Linked DNA regions of Homo sapiens: region 1 is linked to region 2. Evidence: fine-mapped expression QTL. Tissue or cell type: whole blood. Region 2 holds a variant in brackets; the other region holds the start of a gene. All regions are shown on one strand. Distances are between the middles of the regions.

The links. PIP is the estimated chance that this variant, and not a neighbour inherited with it, causes the effect.
Region 1: TREML2 starts here. The variant in region 2 is fine-mapped to the expression of TREML2 in whole blood (TOPMed, PIP above 0.99).

Annotation. Positions count from the first base shown.
Region 1 is chr6:41,198,061-41,205,430 of GRCh38, forward strand. TREML2 (triggering receptor expressed on myeloid cells like 2) reads right to left here and starts at 3,089. Exons shown (of 5, transcript NM_024807.4): 1 at 2,894-3,089; 2 at 49-369. The coding sequence starts at 2,948. RefSeq lists an enhancer at 3,308-3,377.
Region 2 is chr6:41,275,221-41,283,390 of GRCh38, forward strand. TREM1 (triggering receptor expressed on myeloid cells 1) reads right to left here. Exons shown (of 4, transcript NM_018643.5): 2 at 7,175-7,531; 3 at 5,741-5,933; 4 at 1-1,010. The coding sequence ends at 905. Among named protein-coding and RNA genes, the nearest start is that of TREM1, 7.4 kb to the right of the region's middle. The variant T/C (reference allele first, on the strand shown) is at 4,806.

The DNA of each region.
Region 1 (7,370 bases), 78 kb before region 2:
CAGGAGGGACTCCCTCCACCCGTCCCAGAGCCACTGCAGCCTGCTCACCTGGAGACACATCCAGCTGGAAGCCCATCAAGGGGTACAGGATCCCAGAGGTGTTGCGCATGCACCAGTATCGGCCTGAGTCCTGGAGCTTGAGGGCCACCATGGTGATGTTGACCACCTTGGCCTGGGCATCGTCCTGCAGCAAGTAGCGGGGCCCTTTCACCCAGACTCGGGCAAAGCCAGGCTCACACTTCTTCTTCCTGATTTTGCACCAAACCTTGCCCTCCACGCGGTTTTTGTAGCCCTTATAGGAGCACTGCACAGACAGAGTCTCCCCTTCAAGGAGCCTCACTTTTGTGTATACACTGTCAGCAGAGGGGCCTGTGGAGACAATACTTATTGAATAAGGTCTGGCAAGAGGAGAGGAAGAAGACATCATGAAAGTTGAAGATCATGGTGAAGGGTAGAGTGGATATTGTCCTGCTGTCACAGAACCCACAGATTGAGGGGGAAATACAGCCCCGCCTTCAGGGAGCTTGCCCCAATCTGAAGGGAGGTGAATGGGCCCTGAAAACAGCTAGCTTCCAGTATTACAGTGGAGACACAACCCCCGCTCTCAGGGAGCTTTCAGTCTGATGGAGGAGGCAGGTATATCCCTCAGTGAGTCCCCAGTCTAATGGAGGAAACGCAGCATTTACACTCGGAGCTCCATCAGACACAGCCCCTTTCCTCATGGTATTTTCTAGTCTGATGGGAAAGTGACAAGCTCTGTCTTCAGGGATTCCCAGGGAATTCATTTTTGTTTTGTTTTGTTTTGTTTTGTTTTGTTTTTGAGACGGAGTCTCGCTCTGTTGCCCAGGCTGGAGTGCAGTGGCACGATCTCAGCTCACTGTAACCTCCGCCTCCTGGGTTCAAACTATTCTCCTGCCTCAGCCTCCTGAGTAGCTGGGACTACAGGTGCCTGCCACCACGTCCGGCTAATTTTTTGTATTTTTAGTAGAGACGGGATTTCACCATGTTAGCCAGGATGGTCTCAATCTCTTGACTTCGTGATCCACCTGCCTCGGCCTCCCAAAGTGCTGGGATTGCAGGCGTGAGCCACTGTGCCCGGCATCCCAGGGAATTCTTGTGGGAAAAACCCAGGTCATGCCCTCAGTGAGACAGATGCAGAGACACAAACACAGGTCATTAAGTTGTGAAATTTCAGTGCCCAACTAACTAGGTAGATAAGAAAATCTAGTATTTGAAAATATGATTAACAGTTATTTATTTCACAAATAGGTTCACTTAGTCCTCTTTAAATAATAACTCTCCTTAGTTCATTCCATCTGGTGTTTAGTTTTAAAATATTCTAGTTACATAAAACCCATAGATCAAGCCTGTCTAAATATACATGTAAACAAACTCCCAATGGAGTGTGAACCACAGGATTCTACAATTATTCACTTTCCACCTGCAATATCTTTCTCTCTATGCTGAGGAGTAAGATGTGGTCCAAGCCTTCATAATCCACAGTCTGGTAGAGACAGAGCAGAACTGGGGTGTGCAGGGTGACTCAGGGGACAGAGAGAGGGAGAAAGCTGCCTTGGGCTCCCTCCACCCCTCTGCCTGCCTTAAGCTCAGCTGACTCTTCTGATAATTTCACCCCAGAGTCTTCCAAAAAAACCACATATAAAAAGACTCTCCCCCATAGTAGAGAACAGAGAGCACACATTTTGGAGTCAAAATAAACAAGGGTTGAAACCCTGTTTCTACCACTTAGTGGTGTGATTAGGTCACCTGTTTGATACAGAAATATCAAAACAGACACTTGACTGATACAGAAATATCTCTGTTTCTTTATCAGTCAAGTGAGAATAGCACCACACCCCTCACAGGTTGCTGTGAGAATTCTGCCCCAGGTCAGTGCTTTGCACACAGTGCATGCTCAACTCATGCTTCCTTTTCCCACATGCTGGGGCCTCCCAGTTCCCCCAATGGAACCCAGAGCTGTGACAGTCAAGGGCCCAGAATCCAGGACATCTGTCCCACCAGAATCCAGGATATCCGTCCCAAGTCCCAGCCAGCAGCCACTAGAGCTGAGGCTCTGTGTGAAGCAGCACCCTCTCTAAGCATCCCTCTGTCCCTTGCAAACTAAACAGAATGATCCAACTTCATTATTTGGTGGATGAGCCCAGGATTTCTTAGCACAAGAGAGACCCCTTTCTGCCCTGGCAGTGGGAAGCTGTTTCTCTACCCTCTGGGAGGTGCAGAGTTGGGTGACCTTGGGATGGGTCTCCAGGGCAATGTCTTCATGTGTGCCTACACCTCCCACCCCTCTCACAGGCAGTGGTGAGTTTTGCCAACCCCCACCATGCCCAGAACTGAACAGGAAGTGGTAACTTGGTTGCCATGGCAGCGAGAGGGGCAGGAATGGGTGAGGTTCCTCAAGGAGCATTGGTATCTGTGAGGTGGGAAAGGCATTCACACACTGGTCCCTTCAGGACAGAGGCAGGGACAGGATGTGGCATCAGCATTTCAAGAAAAATGTTCAAATTCAGTTCAAAACACACATGATGCAATGATTGCTGTCATAACTAAGCAGGGCTTCCTGACAGAGGCCAAGCAGAGAAAGCTATTTGTGTGAGGAAATTGAGGGCTCTGCTTTAAAGCCTGAGGAAGCCTAGCAGATAAAGGAGCCAATGCAGAGAGGGTCCAGAGCTTTATCTTGGCTTGGGAGGCCTGGGTTAGCTTCGCCTGGGGCCTGATATTAGGGTAAAGAGCTAAGTCAGCCCTAATCTCCTCCTTCCCCAACCCACAAAACACTAAACAAGAAAACTGCTGGTAAGGAGGGTAAGAAAAAGGCCCTGAGCTCCTGCCTCTGTACCCACTCCCTCCTCCACAAGTCAGCCCCTTCTCCCCTCACCTGAGACGCAACCCTGTGGCCACAGCAGCAGCAGCAGCAGGAAGGCTGGGGCCATGGTTCCATCCAGCTGGGCAGTGTCAGGCCTGGAGATCCAAGGTGAGGGCCCACCCGACACAGGATGTGCCACCTGGGCCTGCCAGGGAAGGACCCGGGGTTCTAAAAGTGAAGCTGCCCATTTAGGGAAGTGAGGCAGTGTGGGACCCACTGCCCCCAGCCAACCGCAGGGATTCATTGAGCCTATTATGAGGGCGGTGCTGGCAGCTGTTTCCGCCCTTTTCCTCGGAACTTCAGGCAGGTGTGGCTGCTCCACCCAGTCTGGGGCCCCAAGCCGGGAGGACTCACAGTCAGAGGGCTCCCCGCCCTCCCCAACCTCCCCCAGAAACTGGTCCCTAGGATCCAGCAAGGGGGCTGGGGTGAGGCTTCTGGAACGTCAGGTATAGACCTTCCTGGAATCTTCTGGGCTCAGAGACCCAGGGGTGCGGGCTCTTAGGCTGAGATGGAGCATCTCAGACCCTAGTTTCTTACATATATACATTCACAGGGAAGTTCTTATAAACTCTCATTCATTCATTCATTGCAGATTCTTTCTGTTCCTTCCTCTCTCTCTCTCCCAGGCTCCTGGCTGCTCAGAACAGTCACTTGTGTTCACTGTTGCAAATAACCTCTTACAGGCTCACTTGAAATCTTACTTTTGTCAAGCGGGAAAAATGCAAATTGTTAAGACTCAGGGCATAAATTTTGGGTTGAGGGAGGGGTTCCTGTACTCTCACACACAGGTGTGCATGCACATGCACTCACACTCACAGTCTCACTTTGTCTTTTATTCACTTTCACACACACACACACACGCCCATGCACACAGTCTCACACACACCCCAGCAGCCTCTCCTTTTCCCTATCCATACGTCTCCTCTCTCTGTCCCTCTCCCTGCCTCTCCTCCTGTCGACTCTACTCACCATCAGCTCCCTCTAGACTCCTAGTCCCTCGTGCAGGCTTCCTACAGCCTCCGCAGTACTTCCCCTCACCCACCTCATCTCAAGACCCCCTTCCTCCCCTGCCTCCAGCCTACGTCAGCACGCAGGCAAGTGCCCTCCACTTCCTCCTGCTCAATGCTATCTCGCCTGTACAGCCACCAGCTCCAGTGGAAATGACCCAGCACTAGGCCCAAGACCACACCCTTCACTTACCCCAAGGCCTAGAATCAGAAGCATCAATTTTTGATGTCCGGTACCTGTGTCATCTGCTCCTTCAGTGTGTGGGGACCCAGCTGGACTCCCGTGATTATGTATGCTCCCCCTACTCACTAGTGCCATGTTTCTACTCCTTAGATGGGACTGTCAAAAGGTAAACTGAGGCACAATAAAATTTTAAACAGATTATTTCAGCAAACAACAATTCATGAATCAGGCAGCTCCAAACAGAAGAGGTTGAGGAGCTCCACTGGGGGAATGCAAGGGGAAGACTCCTACAGGACAAGTAAACTGAAGAAAATATTTAATTAGTTATAGTTATATAGTTCCCTTATTTGGCCTATCCTGTTGGAAAGACCCTAGTTAATTATATAAGTTTCTTTTGATTGGTTGAGCTTAAGTTCTATTTTTCCTTAATATACACATTTACAAGAAATAGCTCGTGTTAAGTTTCACTGATATTTGCAAATCAAGCAAAGTTGAGGTCACTTATGAGGCCTAACTGTTTTTTTAATTTTTGCTCAGGGACTCTTCAGGCCTGGTCTCCATTTTCATTAATTTTAACAGGACTCAGAGCAAAAAGTCCTCAAGCTTGCATGGCCACAATCTTAAATTGACCTTGAAGCCCCAAGCTCCAAGCAAAGAAGTCTATCTCGGCTGACCCTAAGCTTTTGTAGTCTCTCAACTCATTCACTCACTCATTAATTCATTCATTCATTTGTTCATTCCCACAACCTCATTGCTATGCATGGGGCTAGGTAGGCACTGGGGGCGTAGGAATGAGACACGATTGTCACTTGAGACCTCTCAGCTCACAGACGTGTTTTGTTTTCCTTATTCACCCTTCCTTTTTCAATGTTTCTCACCCAGTCCTCAGAACTTCCTGAGCTCCCTGAGTTCAGGGGCCATCTCCCCTCCCCAGCACACACAGTAAGTTCCTCCATCCCTTCCCCCATCAGAACAGTAAGTTGCTTCAGGAGTGGGGGATTTATCTCTTGTGGGGACTTTATGCGCTTGGAATCCATGATTCTATGAAACTGATACAGTGCGCCCAGCACTGAGCCAATCATCGTCTAAAGTGTGACCCTTGGGATCACTGTGCTGATGAGGGTAGAAAGAATCAAACATTCATTCGCTGATCGAGGAAGTATGCACTGGATTCAATCTTTCTTAAGAGAAATTTGGAAGCATTGGTCAAAATCATTAAAAATACGTATACATTAGACTTTTACATCTATCATTTGATTTAATACAGCAGTGTATTTTGTCTTTATATTTATTTTTCCCATTTAAAAATTAAGGCCTAATTTACATACAGTACTATTCACCCTTTTCAGTGACGAGTTCTGGGAGTTCTAGAGACTTGTATCCAATGCCGTAATGGAGACAGAGAAGAGTGCCATCATCCCGAAAAGCTTTCCTCTGCTCCTTGTTAGTCATCCCTTCAGTCCCAGACAAACACTGATCTGGTGGGGTTTTTTCCTGTCATTTCTCTCTTTCCAGAATGGAAAAGTGAAGCACTTTATGTTGATTTATTCTGGTGAAGTCCAATATATAATTTTTATGAATCAATTTTTATGTCATATCTAATAAATCTTTGCTTAACCCAAGGTCACAATGACTTTTTTCAACAATTCTGTGAGCTATAATTCACATAATATAAAACTGACCCATCTAAAGCATACAATTCAGTGGTTTTCAATATATTCACTGAGTTGTACAACTAACACCAATTTTGCAGGATTTCCCCACCCAAAGAAACCCCATGCCCGTTAGCAGGCACTCCCTGGATCCGTTTACTGCAGACTTGGTGGCTTAAAACAGTATTAAGTTATTGTCTCGCCATTCTGAAGGCAGAAGTCTGAAGTCAGTTCACACTGTATTGAGATGAAGATGTCGACAGGGCTGCAGTCTCTCCAGAGACACTAGGGAAAAATTTGTTCCTTGCCTTTCCAGCTTCAGGTAGCTGCCAGCATTCTTTGGTTTGGGGCTGTTTTACTCCAATCTTCAAGGCCAGCATCTTCAGTCTCCCTCTGCTCCATCTTCCCATCACTTTCTCCTCTTTGTGTTCAAATCCCACTCTGACTCTCTTACATAAGGATACATGTGATTGCATTTAGTTCCCATCTACGTAATCCAGGATAATCTCACCATCTCAAGATGTTTAACTCACTCATATCAGCAAAGATCATTTTTTTTTTGTTTTTTGCCATATAAGGGTAACAATCACAGGTTCCAGGGATTAGGACACAGATATCTTTTAAGAGACCATTTATCAGCTTACCACAGTCCCCATTCCTACAGTCCCAGGCAACCACTAATATTTTTGTCTTTCTAGACAAAAATATCTTCAATCAAAAATGCCTTTATCAATTCTGGATATGTCATAAAAACATAATTGAACAATATGTGTTCCTTGTGACTGGATTCTTTCATTTGGCATGTTTTCCAGGTTTGTCCATGTTGTAGCTGTACTTGTGCTATACGTTGTATTAATACATCATTCCTTTTAAAGGCTGAATAATATTCCACTGAATGGATATATATGTTTACCATTTATCAGTTGACAAATATTTTATTTGTTTCCACTGTTCAACTATTATAAGCAGTGTTACTATGACTATTCATGTACAAGTTTTTGTGTGGACATACGTTTTCATTTCTCTTGAGTACATAACCAATAGTAGAACTACTGGGTCATATGGCAACTCTATGTTTAACATTTTCAGGAACTACCAATAGTTTTCCAAAGTGGCTGCAAATTTTACACCCTCTCCAGCAATGTATGAGTTCTCATTTCTCTACAATCTCTCCAATACTTGTATTGGCTTTCTGTTTACAGCCATCCAGTGAATGTACTTAAGTTTTGAATTGTAGTTACCTAATGACTAATGATATTGAGCATCTTCATCTTGAGCATGCACAATTTGCTCATTTGTATACCCTTGGAAAAATATTTATTCAATTGTGTTGTTTGTCTTTTACAGCATTTGAACAATGTTGTGCCACATTTTTCTGGCTTCAATTGTTTCAGATAAGAAATTCACTACAATTAGAATTGGTATTCCTTTATAGATAATTATTTCTCTCTGGCCATTTTTACGATATTTTCTTTGTCTTTACTTCTCAGAAGGCTATCTATGCTGTGTCTTGGTGTGTATTTCTTTGGGCTTATTATATTTGGGATAAAATCAGATTCTTGTATTTGTAACTTTAGGTCTTTGGGCAGATTTGATTACTTTAGACGTTTCTTTGAATACATTTTCAGTCTCACATTTTTTCTCCT
Region 2 (8,170 bases):
GGAGAGCTTTTACTCCACCATCCCTGACCCTTGTGTGATACAGGAAAAGAGGCATTTAGACACAGGCGGAACTCCTGGTTATTCTATTCTATATGGTTTTGGGGTCCTTCAGGTAAGGAGCGCTTCAGTTTTCACTCCTGCCAGTGGGCAGTGGCTTATTCATGTGGCCTCGTTCTAGTCACATACATTTCTGCCTTCACGGGGCTATTTTCAGGATCCAGCGATAAATGCACACAGGATGTCTGACATGGTCTGTTGTTGCTCTCCTATGGATCCCATCTCGGCCTGCCAGTATTTCCCCAGAAGAAGATACTCAGTTTAACTCTTTTCTCTGAGAAGGATGCACTTTCTCACCACGATGTCTTATTTCTCCAGGTTCCACAATCTTCAACACCCTTTTCTGGGAGTGTTGGAAAGAACCACACATAAGCATGAAACCCAAGTGTCTGATGCTAGAAAGAGGAAGTCCCAGCATGGGGCGAGCAGGATGCTTCTGTAGTGGGAGCTCTGTCCAGGTCAGGCCAAAATTGTATGGTCCAGGGCAAAACTGAGCAGGAGAAGTATCAGGTGTGCCTTCTGCATGTCACAGCCCCCACAAGAGAATTACGGTGAAAAGCATTGAGCTGTCTGTATTTCATGCCAACCCCAAGTGGCTGGTGGAATGAAGGACCAAGCATGTTTGGGGCTGTAACTTCTTTTCTGAGGCACAAATGCCCACCCAAGATTATTAGAGGAACGAGGGCAGTGGGCAGGAAGGTGAGACGCTGACTTTAGAAATAGCCGGTGATTACAGATTTAATTCATGTTATTAACTCCCTGCCTTTTACCTCCTCCCTCCTCCCTTGGCACAACTGCCAGATGGATGTGGCTGGAAGTCAGAGGACATTCTCGTGGGTTCGTGGGCCTAGGGTACAAATGACCTCAGCGTGACAGCAAACAGGACAGAGAAGACCAGGCTCTTACTCAGGAATCCACCAGCCAGGAGAATGACAATGTTGAACACCGGAACCCTGCGGGAGACAAGAGGCTGAACGCTACTGCTGGCAAAGTCTCTCCCACACGCACATGTTCCCTCTAGAAAATGCCTTCATGTCCCACTCTCCTCTGCTTAGATCCTTGCTCCACCTTTCCCGCACTGCCTGACCCTGTGCTTTTCAGTCTGTCTCATTGCCAAAAACTACTGATTAGAAACAATTCAGTGGAGAGTATAGGTCCCTGTCCAGGAGAGGCACTGGAGGGAGACAGTCGGGCTGATCAGCCCATCCTCCTCCCTGTGATGTGGTAGGGAGAGAGGACTCTGGCCAGGAAACCCGCTCTCTATTCTCAGTACCGTACCCTGCCTACTGGGATGGTCATCTCACCTCTTTAGCTCGGTTTCCTCACCTATAAACCGAGAAGAATCCACCCGTAGTGAAAATCTCATCATGAATTTTATAGATTTTGGCGAAATGATTCTAAGGTTTCTGGGTAAACATCAATAGGTATCATAATAAAAAGATGCAAAGGAGTGAGGGCACTTGGCCAGTTCCATCAGCAGACATGCAAGCAGATGAGAGCACAAGGATGTGGCATGGTAAGACACAGGGACAGACAGATGGCAATGGAACACAAAGGCCAGATGCAGAGCCAGTGCTATGCAGGAACATAATGTCTAAGGAAATCAGAGGTCCAGTGGATAAGCCGGACGTGGTAGCATGCACCCATGGTCCCAGCTACTTGGAGAGGCAGGAGGATCATTTAGTAAATAGTCTTGCAGTATCTGGACAGCAACATGGTAACGGTGTAGGCTTTTCTACAGTTTATAGCATGTAGCAGAATAAATCTTCCCCCGGACTAAACATTTAAATAAAATAAAAAAAAAACAATCCAAGAAAAGTCACCAGGAAATAGAATCAAACACATTAAGGAATAAAGCAAAGCAATTGATTTAAAATCAACACACCCACCTATACAAAACTTAAAACCACATGCACAAACTAGCAAAGAGGGAAACGGCGTAAAGGAGCTAGAAAGCAGAAAACTGCCTATTTGCCTGAAATCCACCCCCATTCAAGGGCCCTGACTTGTAGCACAGGGGACTACATTCCCAAGCCTGACTGGTCGAGTTCAGCAACTGGTGGGGGACAGGGGGCAGAGACGGGGGCAGGGATGGGGCAGAGAGACAGGCAGCAAGGGGCAGGGAGCCAGCATCTCTCTCACCCCTCACATGGTGGCGCACTCAGCATCCTCAGCATCTGCCCCGATTCCAGTGCTGCAACCTGAATGTCCTGGCTTCCGGGCTCTGCTCACTGCACCTCCTCCCCAAGTCTCTCCTGCCAGTGCTCTGCATTATCCACTCTGAGTGCTTTACCATTTTCCTATGCTGAACTCCTGGGGCATGTCCACTCCCAACAGGCCACCATCTGCATTTTTTTCGAGGCTGCACACAAGCTACCAACCCCCTGAAGGGCCAGGAATTCATGTGCTTGGCCTTGGTTAGAGCTGCCCTTGCTCAGTTACTGCCCCTTATAGGGACAACTCCAAATGTGACCCAGGAGTCCCCAGAGCTCCTTAACAAGACTGAGCCAGAGTTATCCTGTGAGATACCCCTTGGTTATGACACGCTTGCTTGGCTTCCTTCCCTTCCTGGTCCCACTTCCTCAATGGCTTTGCCAGAAATCACTTCCTAAAACATTTTTCTTTTTGTCTTTTTTTTTTTTTTTTTTTTTTAGAGAGAAAGAGAGCAGGATCTTGCTCTGTTGCCCAGGCTGGAGTACAGTGGCTTGATCACAGCTCACTGAAGCCTTGATCTCCCAGGCTCAAGTGATCCTCCTGCCTCAGCCTCCCGAGTAGCTGGGACCATGGGTGCATGCCACCATGCCCTGCTAATTTTTTTATTATTTTTTTGTAAAGACGGAGTCTTGCTATGTTGCCCAAGCTAATCTCAAATTCCTGGGCTCAAGTGATTCTCCCACCTCAGCCTGCCAAAGTGCTGGGATTATATGTGTGAGCCACAACACCTAGTCCTAAAACATTTTAACAAGACTTTACAGCTTGCTTCTGGGGAAACTACCTAGAGATAGGGTGATAGTGGCTACCTCTGCAGTGCCTCTCCATCCCCAGGATAGCGTCTCAGCTCTTCCATCACCTGGGCAAACAATTCCCTGCATTAAATTCCTTCGTTTCATGGCTGGATGTGGTGGCTCACACTTGTAATCCCAGCACTTTGGGAGGCCGAGGTGGGAGGATCACTTGATCCCAAGAATTCGAGATCAGCCTGGGCAACACAGGGAGACCCCCATCTCTACAAAAATAATAAAAAGTATTAGCTGTCCTGGTGGTATGCACCTGTGGTCCCAGCTACTTGGGAGGCAAAGGTGGGAGGAGGTTGAGGCTACAGTGAGCCATGATCGTGCCACTCCACTCCAGCCTGATTGACAGAGTGAGACCGTGTCTCAAAAAAAAAAAGAAAAGAAAAAGAAAAAAAGCTTCTTCTTTTCAAACAGCTAGTGTGGATTCCACTTTCCAGACTGGATTTTGGCTGAAAGGATAGTTCATATTAGATGATAGATAAAGTTAACAGATAAAAGAGAGATGCAGTCTCTAGCAGCAAGGCAGGAGAATAGGGTCTGGAGGCAGGAACGTAAGACCAATTCATGCTGAATCATGGAGCAACACCAAGGTCTAGGGGCAAGAAATCTAGGATGGATTCGTGCTGACTTCCCATAGCTGGATCAAAAGGAAAACTCCTGGGGCTGGGGTCAGGGAACCTAAGGCCAATTAACATAAACTTTCTAAAGCTAAAACAAAAGGAAAAACCCCATCTCCCCATGCCCCAGCAGCAAAGAATCAAAGGCTACTCTCCCTACAGCCCTCCCCCTTCCACCACGTCTCAGCTGGAAAGGGAGAGTGTCTTAGATTGGCCCTGAGCCAAGCAGAGACGACCATCCCTTTACCCACAGAGGGCGCCAATTCACCTTAGCCTTTAGTTAGCCACAAACCAAATGCTTCATCCAGATAAGGGGTAACTGGGAGGAACTTCACGTGGAGTACTTAAAACCCAGAAAACTTTGTAACTTGGCCCTTGAGCCACTTGCGTGGGGCCACTTCTACCCTGGGGAGCGCTTTCTCGCTTAAATAAATTCCTGCTTTCACTGCTTCATTCCTTTGTTACTTTGTGCGTCTTCTCCAATACTTTGATTAAAAGGCCCAGAACCTGGACAGCTTACACTTAAGGCCCTCCTTCCGGTAAAAGTAAGAATATGGGCAAAGATTATGTTCTCTTAACTTATGTATTGCAAAATGAAAGTAGAGGAAAAAAAAAAATTGACTCTTAGTAGATCATTCGTTTGATTTATTCCACAGAAGTTTAATGAGCACTTTGTTCCCCAAACAACATAATGGGGAAAAAGGCACTGCCACTACCCATATGGAGGTGGAGTCTACACTCATAGAGAAATTAGAGCAGGCACCAGTTCACATTTGTTTTAGCAGGAATGTGATTTAACTCACACTATTTAATGATTTAAAAGACTAAATCCGTGTCTGTAAGCCTGCCATGACACTGCTTTATTTATGCTTAATGGATCACACTGCAAATTGTTTCCAATCTTTTGGAAGACCATTGGTAGATGCTATTTGTATACAAAATGATATCAGTGTTTAAATTATCTCATGGAAATTTCGAGTTAATTATTTAAAAGAAGAAAAATATATCTGCAAGAATATGTTTATCTCAGAGTTATCAACACTATATCAATGTCTAAGAACAGGCCAATGGTTATGTAAGTTATGGCTTTCCCAATTGATAGAAAAATATGCACTCA[T/C]TGAAATTATATTTATGAAATTTAGGTAGCAGCATCAAAGAATAATTTCAGCAAGGAAAAGAATAAAAACATGTATAATTAGACTTACTGCCATATTAAAATATGTATAAACATGAATAAAGACTAGAAGAGAATATGAGAAAAAAGACATGTTAGACTAGTGGTGATGTGGAAAAGTATTTCCATCCTGATAATTCAGTATTTAATGATAAACACATTCTAATATAAATCAACATTTAATAACTGTAAAGAGGTGTGAAATTGCTAAGTTAGTGGTTCTTAAGTTTGCCTACACATTAGAAATCTCCTAAACATCTTATTAAAAATACTGAGAGGGACCTCATCTGCAAAAATTCTGATTCTATTTATCTATAATTGGGCACATGCAACAATGTTATTTAAAAAACAATAAGGCAAAAACCAATACTGCATTTAGCCCCAGCTCCAGCTCCTGCTGAGAGTTATTAGGTGGACAATGTCTTCCAGCTTTGGGTTTCTACCATGCCTACTGAATTGTCAAAGAAGCTAAAGCCAGAGAGGGTTCCTGACTCACCCAAAGTCACATTCAGTTAGTCAGGCCAACACTAGATCCAGGGCCCCTCACTCAGAGTGCTTTCCCACTGCCCATCAGGCCCCTGGGGTTGGATGAGCTCCACTGGAACTTGGGGAAGATGCCATTTCCCTCTCTTTAATACTCAGGTTGCAAGGAAACAAAGAAGGTGAACTGGGGAGAAGGACAGCCTGGCTGAGAGCCTCCCCTATTCTCCATCACCACTTCCTTCTTCCCCTGGACATTTCTACCCAGACTAATGTGACTCAAGTCTTCTCCTGCCCCACCCTCCCCTTTCCCTCACTTTCACATCCTCTCAGCACACAGACTGGGAAACAAAGGGCTCAGTGTCCAAACCAGGGGCCCAGGGACCTGGAAACTATACCTGATGATATCTGTCACATTTGTAAGGTTGATTTCAGAGTCAGGAGTGGAGACATCGGCAGTTGACTTGGGTGGAGCTTGGGTCACAGTTCTGGGGCTGGTATAGAGTGGGCACAAGGCCTTAGTGGTGGTAGGAGGAATCTTATACACATTCTGGGTAGAATTCTCATTGGAGCCAGGGGTCCCTGAAAAACCTGCAAGAAGACACATTGGATGGATGGATGGACAGATGGATGATGAATGGGTGGATGGGTGGGTGAATGGATGTATGGATGTATGGATGAAAATGTGGATGAGTTGATGGACGGGTAGGTGGTACGGTAAATGAAGCTGAGGAGGGAAATGAGCATGGCCCAAATGCAAAGTTTTCCTTTGCTAAAGCCAAAGAAATACTGTGGAGTCAACCTGAGTCAGAAATCGAAAAAAGGAAAGAAGAAAAAAAGGGCAGGAAGTGAGGGAGAGCAGAAAGAGAGAAGAAGAAAGGAATTTTTTGTCATTCGTACTGTTGGAAATGAACTTGCCTTCTGTTCTTCACCAATTCTTGTGCCCCAACCTTCTCCAAGAATAATTCCAGGCTTACTTGATTCACTCTGCCTTTCGTTCACCTGGCTTATGGCATATTGCTTTAAAAGTTATCTTTTATTAATATATTGTGTGTGCACCTTGTCTTCCTCAGGCTTAGAATTCCCCAGGTGCTGGGAACTTGAGCCTGCTTCCCTTTCCTCTGTCTTCCATAATTCATTCCTTAATGCAACATCTCCTGAGGGCCTACTTTGTGTCAGAAACTACATTATTTGCTAGGGGTGCAGAGCCCAGGAAGGCACAGGTGCTTCCCTCAAGCAGTTCTGAAATGAATAGGGTACAGATAAGTAAACCCCCCTCTCCTATCCAGTGAGTAGAGTTGTGTACAAGGGGACACAAAATGAGCTCTGGAGACTTGCTCCCCCAAAATGGGAGCCATGGACCATCAGCATTGGCATCACCTGGGAGATCAATAGAGATGCAGACCCCTGTACCCATTCAGTTGGAGTGTGCATTTGAAATAAGATCCCCAGGTGGTCTGTGCCCACAGAAAGATGTGAGAGGGGCTGCTTCAGAAGCACACAGGCATGCCACCAAACGCATCCTTGGGAGGGGGAGTCAGGACATGACTTCTAAGTGGAGAACAAAGAATGGGACTAAATTATCCCAAATCTACCACTCACCTTAATTGTACCCCAATTCCTACCACAGCACCCAAAATTAGGCTGTGCTATCCAAGGAGAATCTCATGCATGGAAGGTTCTACTTACTACTGGACCTTAGATGAGAGATAAAGAGGTCCTGGGAGGAAGACAGACTGCTGGGAATCCTGAACCCCAGCTCTGCTGATGCTACCACCACTGCCCCTTTCCTCACCTGGCCCTTCTTTCCCCCCAAGTCCCAGGCCACTCACCCTTGGTCACCACCAAGCGGATGCGATCGAACAGCATGTGAGGCTCCTTGGGAGGCTGGTAGATCACACACTGATACAGTCCAGAATCTTCCACTTGAAGGTTGACCATTCGGACGCGCAGTAAACCATGATCATGGTAGTCTTCTAGTATGATCCTCCCCACTTGGACTGGATGGGAATTCTTTGAAGGCCTCTCTGTGCATGCCAGGGTCTTGGGCATCTCTCCGTCCCTTATTATCTGCCAAGCTTTCTGGCTGCTGGCAAACTTCTCTAGCGTGTAGTCACATTTCACATCCAGGGTCTGCCCCTCTTTCAGTTCATACTTTTCCTCAGTTAATTTAGTTGCAGCTCGGAGTTCTATAAGCAGGGAAAGAGAATGGGTTCTGTGAGGAATTATTTTTCTCTCTCTGAGTGGGGAAAAAGGAGAGGAGCCCCCTGTTTTTCTTGTCCAACCACCCATATTTCAGATGAGGTTCTTGAGGCCTCCAGAGAAAATACAACTTGCCCTGCAAGCCAGCACTAGACCTCAGATCTTTCCACTGTGAGTAGGTTTTTTACTATAAGAGACTGCATATGGTGCATGAGGATCAAATTTCATAAATGATCAGAAGAGGAAGACTGACTTTGAGAGGAAGAAACTGCCTGCCTGGAGACAGAACATGGGATATTGTACTAAGACCACGAGTGGCTGCAGCATGGTGGGAGGGATCGATTACAAGGGCGTATGACATAAAAAGTGAACGCAAAGACACGGTGCTAGCAGAGAGTGGCTCCAAGGACACCTTGAGGAACTTCATCTAAGTCAGGGCAAGGAGATCAGCTCAAAAGACCTTTGGACAAACAGTGAGGAAGCCGTCTGGAGGGCATGATGGGCATGGATATCTGACTGCCTGGCACTCCTTTTTCCCTTCCTTGGGTAGCAGAGCACCCCTTTCCAAGGGAACGATCCTGTGTGGCTCTACTGTTGGGGCAGCCCACATTCTCAAGGATGGGCAC